3 linked regions of the Homo sapiens genome follow. The protein of the gene in region 1 purifies or fractionates together with the protein of each later gene. This does not show direct contact. Each region holds a gene or a part of one and is shown in the gene's direction. Other genes may lie near its edges. The genes, in order: KIF6, SNX16 and FEZ2.

Region 1 (3,749 bases):
TGGCTGGTCCATCTTGTTTTCTCATCAGTGATGTTTGAGAGTTCTAGATGCTCTGCATCCATGTCGGCACTTAGTTTTGTCAGTTTTATTTTCTTATTTTTCGCCATTCTAAGAGATGTGTAGTGGTATCTCATTGTGGTTTTAATTTCATTTCATTAATGATTAATGATATTGAGCATATTTTTCATGTGCTTATTTGCCATCCATAGATCCTCTTTGGTGAAGCGTTTGTTCAAATCTTTGCACCCTCCCTTCACCTTAAACAAATGAATTGTTTGTTTTTCTATTATTAGGTTTTAACAGTTTGTATATATTCTGGATGCAAGTCCTTTATCAAGATACGTGTTTTGCAAAAGTTTTCTCCCAATCTGTAGTTAGTCTTTTTGTTTTCTTAAGTGTCTTTCAGCTGGGTGCAGTGGTTCATGGCTGTAATCCCTGCACTTTGGGAGGCTGAGGTGGGTGGATTGCTTGACCTCAGGAGTTCAAGACCAGCCTGGGCAAGATGATGAAATCCTGTCTCTGCAAAAAATACAAAAATTAGCTGAGTGTGATGGCACATGTCTATAAGCCCAGCTACTTGTGGGGCTGAGGCAGGAGAATCGCTTGAGCCCAGGAGGTTGAGGCTGCAGTGAGCCGTGTTCATGCCACTGCACTCCAGCCTGGGGTACAGAGCAAGACCTTGTCTCAAAAAAGAAAGAAAGAAAAAAGGGTGTCTTTAATAAACTTTTTGTTTTGTAAAAAATAATACAGAGAGAACTCGTATACCCATCTCCCAGTTTTCCCCAGTGGTAATGTTTTGCATAACTATAGTACAATATAAAAATCAGGGAATTGACATTGATACAATCCATCAATCTTATTCAATTTTATGTGACTTTTGCCAGTTTTACATGTGCTTATTTGAACATGTGTGTAATTTGTTCTATGCAATGCTATCACATGTGTAGATTTCTGTGATCACCATCACAGTCAAGATACAGAACAGCCCATCACAAGGATTTCTTTTATAACCATACCCTGCACACCTCCCTGGCAATAGTAATAGAACCATACGGTAGTTAGCTTTCGAGTCTGGCTTCTTTCATGAAACATAATTCCCCGAAAATTCAACCAATTTGTTACGTGTATCAACACTTCCTTCCTTCTTAATTGCTGAATGGTATTCCAGTTATTTTAAACTATCAGCTGAAGAACATCTGGGTTTTTTTTCCAGTTTGGGGCTATTACAAATAAAGGTGCTAAAACTATAAACACACATGCGCAGGTTTTTGTGTGAACACACGTTTTCATTCATCTGAGATAAATGCCCAAGAGTGCAATTGCTGTGTCTTAGAGTAGTTGCACCTTTAGTTTTGTAAGAAACTGTCAAACTATTTTCCAGAGTGGCTGTACCTTTATACAGTGTATGTTTTACATTATACATTCCTACCAGTAAAGTGCAACTGATTCAGTTTCTCCACATCTTTGCTAGCATCTGGTGTTGCCACTTTTTTTTTTTTTTTTTTTTTTTAAGCCATTCTGATAGATGAATAGTGATGCCTCATTGTGGTTTTAACTTATATTTCCCACGTGGATAATAATGTTGACTATCTTTTCATGTGCTAACAGTGTTTGAAGAGCTCATCCTTTCTTGCCGTGACCATTGTGTGGGAAACAGTCCCCTTCATCCAGTTTTATCCTTTTCCAAAACAGAGCTAGCCCCACTTCTAATTCCATCATGGCATAGTTTGTATTCCTTGGTTTTGATTTCCTGTTGAAAATCTGTCTCCTTGTCACTTGAGAGACCTTGTGAAGGAAAAAAAAAATCTGTCTCCTTCTTCAGACTGTGATCTCCAAGTGGGCTGGAGCAGTTCTGCAATCTTGGCTCACTACAGCTTCGACCTCCCGGGCTCAAGCGATCCTCCTGCCTCAACCTCCCGAGTAGCTGGGATACAGGCGCGCCACCACGCTTGGCTAACTTTTGTATTTTTTGTAGAGACGGAGTCTCACTATGCTGCCCAGGCTGGTCTCAAATTCCTGGGCTCTAAGCGATCCTACCACCTCGGCTTCCCAAAAACTGCTGGGATTACAAGCATGAGCCACCACGCCCGGCCCAGTGCTGTATTTTTTTTTAAAGGCAAGGGCATGGAGAATAAAATGGGTGAATGAGCGGGGCGGGGCAAGGCATGGTGGTTGTTCCCCTTTAACCACACGGTCCAGGCCGGGTCCGGCGCTAAACCCAGAGCCCAGACACTCGCTCATGCGCATGCGCAGCGCTCTCCTCTCCACCCCCGCCCTCCCCTCCCTAGCCCCGCCCCGTAGTGGCCTCCTTCCGGTCGCGACCAATTAGAGGGAGGAGGCGGGATCCTGGCTGCCAAGGTGCTCACTGGGTAGTGTCCCTAGCTACTGTTGCTAAGACTGTGGGTCGCCGGAGGTGGTGGGAGTTAGTTTTGGCAGCCCGGGCCTGAGAGAGGTCAAGGGTCATTGCAGAGCCAGGGAGGAGATGGTGAAGCAGACTATCCAGATATTCGCGAGGGTGAAGCCCCCTGTCCGGAAGCACCAACAAGGGGTACGGGCTGGAGCCTCCGGGGCGCCGGCGCGGCGGGGCCTCTTGGGCTGGGGTCGGGCGGCGGCACGCGAAGGGGCTGGGCGGAGGTGAGGGGCTTGCTGGTGGGCGCCGAGGCCGCCCGGAATCCCGCACACACTGACCGAGGAGCCCTGCAGCCGCGAAGACCCCCGCGCACTGCTGTCAGCTACGCGACCGACAGCCAGGCCACTCCTACCTGGCACAGCGCAGACCCGGCAGAGAGCCATTTTTTTTGCACCCAGGCACACGTGTTCACGCGGGGGCAGACTAGTGCATGTTCAGTATGCCTGTATAGTGTGCGCTTCAACTACACATAAGCACTTATTGCACCTTTCTGGGAAACTCACGCAGCACCGCACATGCAGATACACTCAAAGGTACATTTTGGCACTCGGGCAAAACGTGCAAGCAAGAGATGCGTGTTTATGTACCTCTGAAATAATACAAATATAGATAGACACAAATGCACAAAGCATACACATATGTAGTACTTTGCACCCAGTGGGGCCTCAGTAATTAGTTGACTGTTGTTATTCTCCAACATAAACGTGAACCTTTACATATACTCCTTGTATTAATAGATATAGGTAGATGCTTAAGCATCCTGACCCAAAGAATACGCATGTGTACTTCATTCAGAAACAATTAACTAAATATTTACCAGGTGCTTCCTCTAGTGTGCTAAATTCAGAAAGGTATAAAGAAGGTTAAGACATTGCCCTGACTCTGAGCAATGATACTTTGTATGCACCTTTTTTTTTTTTTTTTTTTTTTGAGACGGAGTCTCGCTCTGCCACCCAGACTGAAGTGCAGTGGCGCGATCTCGGCTCACTGCAAGCTCTGCCTCTTGGATTCACGCCATTCTCCTGCCTCAACCTCTCAAGTAGCTGGGACTACAGGTGCCCGCCACCACGCCCGGTTAATTTTTTGTGGTTTTAGAAGAGACCGGGTTTCACCCTGTTAGCTAGGATGGTCTCGATCTCCTCCTGATCTTGTGATCCGCCCGCCTCGGCCTCCCAAAGTGCTGGGATTACAGGCGTGAGCCACCGCGCCCAGCACTTTTTATGCTTCTTAAATATTTCAAAACATCCTCTCTTCTGCCTAGAAGGGAGCATAGTCATTCTTATGTATCTTGAGAAATGGCCACCTGACAGGTGCTTTATCTGCATTATCTCTCATTCTC
Region 2 (3,749 bases), on another chromosome or scaffold:
CAAGGATCCCAGCTTGGAAAGGAAAAGGGAGAGAGAGAAAGAGGAAAAAGAAAAATACAAATCCCAAACTTTGGGCTTACCTTCTGGCTGGCTCACCAAAATATGTTACCAATTGAGGGTAGTTGTCCAGGTTCTTGGTGTTTTGAACGAAGAATTGGACAGAACACACAAACAAGGCATGGAAAGCAGAGATTTATTTTAAATGAAAGTATACTCCACAGAAGGAAAACAGACTCAGTCAAGGGGTTCAAGAGCATCAGCTACAGAATTTTCTGGGGCTTAAATACCCTCTAGAGGGTTCCCATTGGCCTATGCCCAGTCTGATTGGTTGTGGAAGGAGACCAATCAGAGTGAAAAGTAGGCCCTCAACCAGTCTGATTGGTTGAGGGAGGGGCTCTATCAGAGGTTCTTTCATTTTTCAACTGCCACCCAAAGAAAGGAGGGTTGCAACTGCCACGCAGCAACTGCCACGCAGAAAAAAGAGGGGTTGAAAATGGAGTCGCCTCTGATATCAGTCAGCATGAATCAGCCTTAGGTCCCCTGTTTCCAGACCCTATTCTCCTACCTAACATTGTTTCTACAGAATTCTATTTTTATTTCATTCACACTAAAAGGGCAGAATCTCTTAAACCAAAACCATCATCATGTCACAAACCAGACTATTTTCCAACCTTCATTTCAAAATGACCACTATCACCTTTTCTCACTCTTAGTCGGGCAGTAGAATAGGGTCCGGAGGCAGGGAACCTAAGGCCCATTCACGCTGACTTCCTAGAACTAAATCAAAAGGAAAACTCCAACTTTCCAAGCCCAAGTAACAAAAAGACCAGAGGCTATTCCCTTTGCAACCCCCTGCCCAACCTTCTAGGCCCTTGGTATCTGGGCCTAGTCTTCATTTCCATAGGAGTACAACTTTGTAACTTAACTTTAGCCTCTGATTGGTTGCAGGCTACTCCTTAATTTACAGAGGGTGTAAACCAAGTAACCAATGGGAAATCTCTAGCGGATATTTAAACTCCAGAAAATCCTGTAACCAGGGCTCTTGAGCCACTGGCTGGAGGCCATTCCCACTCTGTGGAGTGTACAGTCATTTCAATCTCTGCTTTCCTTGCTTCATTCTTTCCTTGCTTTCTTTGTGCGTTTTGTCCAATTCTTTGTTAAAAAAACCAAGAACCTGGATGACTTGTAGTCAAGACCCTCCATGGGTAACATTGGGACTATACAAAAGCCTTAGAAATCGTGGAATGATTTTTCAACCACATTATCTGATTCTAATGATGAACAGACCTGTAGACCGGTCTGAATCTTGGGATTTGCCTATCAAAAAACTCGGCTTTCCCTACTGCACAGGTCTTCAGAAGCGCATGTCTAACAAGGCTAATATTCCATCATCGGGATCAAATTGCTCACCGGATAGTAAAAAGACACTACAGAATTTCAGGGGTTCTCTGCCAATGAGAACTTCTGAATTATGTAGAACGGATCAGCTACTAAGCAGTGTTCTATCTTCCTACTCTTCTAATCGATTGTCATCCCTTAAAGCGCTGCTAATTCTAGAAAACAATCTATAACCTGTTAGAATCAGCGCAAGCTGGTGATGACTACAAGTCCCATGATGCAAAGTATGAGCACGGACCAATGTTGGTCGCAGTTCCTTCTGGGAATTGTAGTCTTCTCCTGTTTGGCAAACTAGGTATTGTAGCCTCCATTTCTCAGAAGTTCAGTTGGAAAACTAAAGATAGTGCAGAGAATGTCGATTTCCTGCCACAAGATTACATTTATCTTCGCTACCTGAGCGCCCAGCCGATCAACTCCAGTCGCTCCTCCGGTGGGCGGGCGCCCATGCCGTGACATCACTTCCGGCAGAGATGTGTGTGTGACGCTCTCTCTCTCTCTCTCTCGCTCTCGCTCTCTCCCTCGCTCGTTTTCTTTCTCTTTCTCTCTCTCTCTCTCTCTCTCTCTCTCTCTCTCTCTCTCTCTCTCTCTCTCTCTCTGTCTCTCGCTCTTGCCCTCTCTCTCTCTCTTTCTCTCTGTCTCTGTCTCTCTCTCTCTCTCTCTCTCTCTCTCTCTCTCTCTCTCCCTCCCTCCCTCCCTCCCTCCCTCTCTCTCTCTCTCTCTCCCCCCCCCCCCCCCCCCGCCCAGTTCGGCCCCTCCTTCCACACAGCAGGGATCTTGGGCCCGGGCAGAGACTGGCTGAGGCGGGGAGCAGCTGCTTTTGGGGCGGGGGTGTCACGTGAGGCTTCTCGCTGCTGAGGGAGGAGGCGAAAAGCTGCGGTTAAGGAGAGTCCGGTTTAACCGTCACCGGGAAGCGCGCTCGTTCGGGATCGCCGAGGGGGCTGAGGTAAAGACTGGGTCATTACCTCAGGACAGGCGGTCGCTGTCCCGGGTTCTCGTACGGGTGACACCTGCAACCTTGATGTCTGGCGGGCGGCAAGGGGCTCCGCGGGAGAGTGGAGAGGCGCCGCAGGAAGCCCAGCCACCTTCAGGCCACCGCCGACCCCACTGTGCGTCTGGGAGGCGCTGGGCGCGCACCGGTCAGCGGAGGCGGGAGAGTCTGTGATCCCAGGGAGCTGCGGGTCTCGCCGCCTGCAGTGCGGAAGACCCGTGACCGGCGCAGACCCCGGCCTTACCTTCCGAGGGTCGAACTGTGCCTGGTATTTGCCTCTTTCCTCCCGCCCACGGGGTTGCTCAGAGTCGGGCCACCTCACCTGAGGTTTTCCAGAGTGAGAATGAACTGAGCGTCCTGGGAGCAACTCCGCATCAGGGTAGAGGCGAAGACGCTCCTAATGAGCACAGCACGTTTTTTTGTTTGTTTGTTTGCTTGTTTTGTTTTTTTAACGCTTGGGTAGCGCTCACATCTTCGGACGTCAGTGGTTGTGTTGATATGTATTGATATGCGACCTCCCCCCAGCCAGGCGGCCTCAGGTAGTAGAGTGGCAAAGGCCAGGTAGATCCCTCGGACCTTGAGAAGGTTGAGATTTCAGACTTACTTGTTTTTGGGGAGGCCGTCAGGCGGAACCGAGGAGCGGTGAATCAGCAGCTAAAGTTTCATGAATCTTTGATAATGGGGAAATGTTGCCGAGAGCCACTTGAGTTAAAAATCTTTTTTTTTTTTTTTTTTGAGACGGAGTTTTCCTCTTGTAGCCCAGGCTGGAGTGCAATGGCACGATCTCGGCAAACTGCAACCTCCGCCTCCCGGGTTCAAGCGATTCTCCTGCCTCAGCCTCCCAAGTAGCTGGGATTATAGGCCTGCGCCACCATGCCCGGCTAATTTTTGTATTTTTAGTAGAGACGGGGTTTCACCATGTTGGCCAGGCTAGCCTCGAACTCCTGACCTCAGGCGATCCACCCGCTTCATCCTCCCAAAGTGCTGGGATTACAGGCGTGAGCCACAGCGCCCAGCCCAGAGTTAAAAATCTTATTTCAGCATCTTTCCAAGTCCAGGTGACTCATTTCTTACCTTTCCCACCAGTAGAGTTTCGTATGAAAAGTTGGGCAGTTATTGTTGTGTGTAGTCTTGTCATTTTGTTGGTCTGTAGTTGTTACAGTTTCTTATGAGTTTATTATTTAACAAAGTAATAGTAAACCATTTCTTCTTTGTGTTATGATACTATTCTGACACAAGATATACTGGTCCGTTTGATAACAGATTCTTGAGTGTAAGTTATAAAGATTTAAATACCCTCAGTTTATCGTAGAGCAGAATTAGTGATGACCTGTAAGCTGTGAAGAACGGTTACAATTTTCAC
Region 3 (3,749 bases), on another chromosome or scaffold:
GGAAGGCTGCCTTCCCAGCCCGTGACCGGCGCCGGAGTTTTGGGTCCACGGATAAAACGTGTCTCCCTTGTCTCTACCAGAAAATGAAAGGAACTGAAATTAAGAGAAGGGAGAGATTGAAGTGCGGCGCCAAGATTGAAAGGAGAAAGAGGTTGAGGGATAGTGAGGGAAGCTGGAGAAGACAGTAAAAAGAGGCCGCTTACTGGATTTGAAATTGGTGAGATGTTTTTTGGGCTGGTCGGTCTGAGGACCTGAGGTCGTAGGTGGATCTTTCTCATGGAGCAAAGAGCAGGAGGACAGGGGGATTGATCTCCCAAGGGAGGTCCCCCGATCCGAGTCACGGCACCAAATTTCATGTGCGTCCGTGTGAAGAGACCACCAAACAGGCTTTGTGTGAGCAACACGGCTGTTTATTTCACCTGGATGCAGGCGGGCTGAGTCCGAAAAGAGAGTCAGCGAAGGGAGATGGATTATCATTAGTTCTTACAGGTTTTGGGTCAGGCGGTGAAGTTAAGAGCAATGTTTTGCGGGCAGGGGTGGATCTCACAAAGTACATTCTCAAGGGTGGGGAGAATTACAAAGAAACTTCTTAAGGGTGGGGGAGATTACAAAGTACATTGATCAGTTAGGGTGGGGCAGGAACAAATCACAATGGTGGAATGTCATCCTTAAGGCTATTTTTACTTCTTTTGTGGATCTTCAGTTACTTCAGGCCATCTGGGTGTATATGTGCAAGTCACGGGATGCGATGGCTTGGCTTGGGCTCAGAGGCCTGACAGCTAGATTTTGTATTTTTAGTAGAGACGGGGTTTTACCATGTTGGCCAGGTTGGTCTTGAACTCCTGACCTCAAGCGATCCGTCCACCTGGGCCTGCCAAAGTGCTGGGATTATAGATGTGAGCCACCTCGCCTGGCCTACTCCAATTTTTTTGTATTGTAGTAAAATAAACATAAAATTACTATCTTAACCATCTGTAAGTGTATAGATCAGTGGCATTCAGCACATTAACACTGTCGTGGAACCATCACCACCATCCATCTCCATAACTCTTTTCATCTTGCAAAACTGAACCGCCCAATCACACTTAGTTTTTATGAGGTCTAAACAATTTCTTGTTACTCTTATCACTCCGACATTGTAAGCCCTGTGTATGGGGCACCCATGTATTAGTTATAACATACACATAGGGTATCTACTATTAGGCATTGCTCTAAGTGCTTTGCAAATGTTAACTGGCATAATTATCTTTGTATGTTCTGCAGGATCTAGCCAGTGCTTTGCACGTGAGAGGTAAAATATTTGAGGAATGAACTTCGGTACCACCTAAACATTTCCCATTGACTCTGGCTGTTATTCTGGTTGGCAAGTTAGGAAAGGAGCAGGTTACCTTGGGGAAAACGACTTTCGGGGCGTAATCTGATATTAGGTCGTAAGTTTAAAGAAGTCCTTTATTTTAGCCACATTTAGGCCAAGTTGCTAATAAGGGAAGCTAACAGGGAAGTTATTCCTAAATGATAGAGAATATAGGAAGTGACTCAAGGCAGTTAAGGTCTTGGCTTTCTAGTAGCACCGCGTTCAACTCCAGGAAGACTCAGGCCACCGGAGACCCAGGGTTGGGACAGCCTGGGATCTGTCAGCACGGTAGCGGGCGGGGGCGGGGCTTCGGGCCGGGGCGGGGCCGGGCTGGGCGGGCTGGGCCGGCCTGGGCGGGGCGCGCGACTGCTCCGGGCGGCGATGGCGGCGGACGGGGACTGGCAGGATTTCTATGAGTTCCAGGAGCCGGCCCGGAGCCTCCTGGACCAGGAGAACTGTAACGCGAGCCCCGAGCCTGGGGCGGAGGCGGGGGCCGAGGCGGGTGGGGGCGCCGACGGTTTCCCGGCCCCGGCCTGCAGCTTGGAGGAGAAGCTGAGCCTGTGCTTCCGCCCCTCGGATCCGGGCGCCGAGCCCCCGAGGACGGCCGTGCGGCCCATCACGGAGCGCAGCCTCCTGCAGGGGGACGAGTGAGTGCGGGGCCCCGGCCGGGAGTGGGCGGGAGCCTCCCCTACCCCTCGCCCGACCGGCAGCCCTACGGCCGCAGCTCCTCCCTGCGCCCTCCTTCCGCCCGGACGCGGGAGTCCCCGCCCTCTCGCCTCCTTCCTCCGGCCGTCGGCCTCGGCTCGCCCAGCAATTTAAATCCCCTGCCCCCCGCCGCCACGAGCCCTGAAAACCTCCGCCTCGGTACCTCCCGCCCTCCTTCCTGCAAACCAAACCCTCGTTTGTATTAGAAGGGAATCGCCCATGCAGAGCCCATAGTTAGAGACGGCACCTCCTGGGGCACCTCCTGGGGCACGTGTGTCGCCATTCATTCACTCAAGTCGCATTTATTAAGCACCTGCTGAGTGCCAGGCGCTGCTTCGCACAGGGAACACCAAAACGACTGGGCACTGTCCCTCCCACTTAGGACACAACGTAGGATGGGAGATAGATTTGTAAACAAATACATGTATGGATGTAATTAGCGCTGCAATGGTTATATGTACCAAATGTGAGAGACTTAAAAGCGTGTGTCTTGGGGAGAGTAAGGAACGACTTTATAAAGAAATGTGCAAACGAGATCTGACTGATGAGTGGGAGTGTGCCTGGCAGGTGGAAAAAAGTCTAACGTTCTAGGTGGAGTATATTGCCTGTGCATAAGTACCAACGTGCGAGGCAGCATTTAGGGCACAGGAATCTGTGGGACCCACCCGGGAGCCCTGGTAGAGTGCGAGCCGCCACAGAGACGAAAACGAAGGGCCCTGCTTACTGATGGTAACGATCGCATGGTCTGGTGGGGAGACCAAGGCATACACAAGTAATATTAATAATTACAGAATCACCTAAGAGCAATGATAGGAGGTTCACGGGGTTTTATCACAGCTGGGAGAGGTGAGGCGCAGAGTTCCTGAGGGCACTTTTTAAACCACCTGAGCCGCAATTATAATTTGGTTAAGTAAGAGTTGTAATTAGGTACCATGGTTTTACCCCCAAAAGATGGTAAATAGGAATGGTGAGAGTAAAGGGACTTGAGCATGTTGTGTATATAGGGGGAGAGGAGCCTCCGGAGAGGCTGAAGGTAAAATGAGTGGAATAAGATTGGGCGCGGTGGCTCACACCTGTGATCCCAGCACTTTGAGAGGCTGTGGTGGGAGGATGGCTTGCTTCCAGCAGTTCGAGACCAGACTGGGCAATATCGTGAAATCTGGTCTTTACAAAAAAATTAAAAAAAAATTAGTGAAGTCCGGTGGCGCATGCCCGTGGTCCCACGGACCCAGCTGCCCGGAGGCTGAGATGGCAGGATTGCTTGAGTCCTGGAGGCGAAGGTTGCAGTGAGCCATCATCGCACAACTGCACTCCAGCCTGGGTGTCAGAGCGAGACTTTGTCTCAAAAATGAGGACATGGGAAGGAATGGATTTTCAGAGCATTGATGGGATGGAGAGACTCTTAGAGGTTAGGGAAGAATTTTTGAGAGACAGGACAGGAGTCACGGGCACGGAAAGGAGTTTCCAGCCTGATTGTCTCCTTTCCTTTGTGAAACAAACAGATTTATCAGGAATAAGGTAGGAAGCTTGTAAAGACAGCCTTGGGAGTGGGGCCTGTAAACATGGCTGAGCAGTGGTGCAGGCCCACCTGTGTTTGGAGACCATCTCCTTTTATTGGTTCCTCAGTACAGTGTTCTGCCCAGGTGTAGAGAAGGGAAACACTTATAATTGGATTTTATACACACATGCA

What was found.
Region 2: the proteins of KIF6 (region 1) and SNX16 purify together in Homo sapiens (affinity purification with mass spectrometry; 3 studies listed by BioGRID and IntAct, with this or other methods). This does not show direct contact.
Region 3: the proteins of KIF6 (region 1) and FEZ2 purify together in Homo sapiens (affinity purification with mass spectrometry; 3 studies listed by BioGRID and IntAct, with this or other methods). This does not show direct contact.

The regions. Positions count from the first base shown.
Region 1 is NC_000006.12:39,724,044-39,727,792, reverse strand, and holds the start of KIF6 (kinesin-like protein KIF6), read left to right. Parts: upstream 1-2,384; 5' UTR 2,385-2,482; coding exon 2,483-2,548; intron 2,549-3,749.
Region 2 is NC_000008.11:81,840,714-81,844,462, reverse strand, and holds the start of SNX16 (sorting nexin-16), read left to right. Parts: upstream 1-2,277; 5' UTR 2,278-2,341; exon of another isoform or gene 2,342-2,925; intron 2,926-3,749. UniProt on the Homo sapiens protein: May be involved in several stages of intracellular trafficking. Plays a role in protein transport from early to late endosomes. Plays a role in protein transport to the lysosome. Promotes degradation of EGFR after EGF signaling.
Region 3 is NC_000002.12:36,596,129-36,599,877, reverse strand, and holds the start of FEZ2 (fasciculation and elongation protein zeta-2), read left to right. Parts: upstream 1-1,709; 5' UTR 1,710-1,735; coding exon 1,736-2,001; intron 2,002-3,749. UniProt on the Homo sapiens protein: Involved in axonal outgrowth and fasciculation.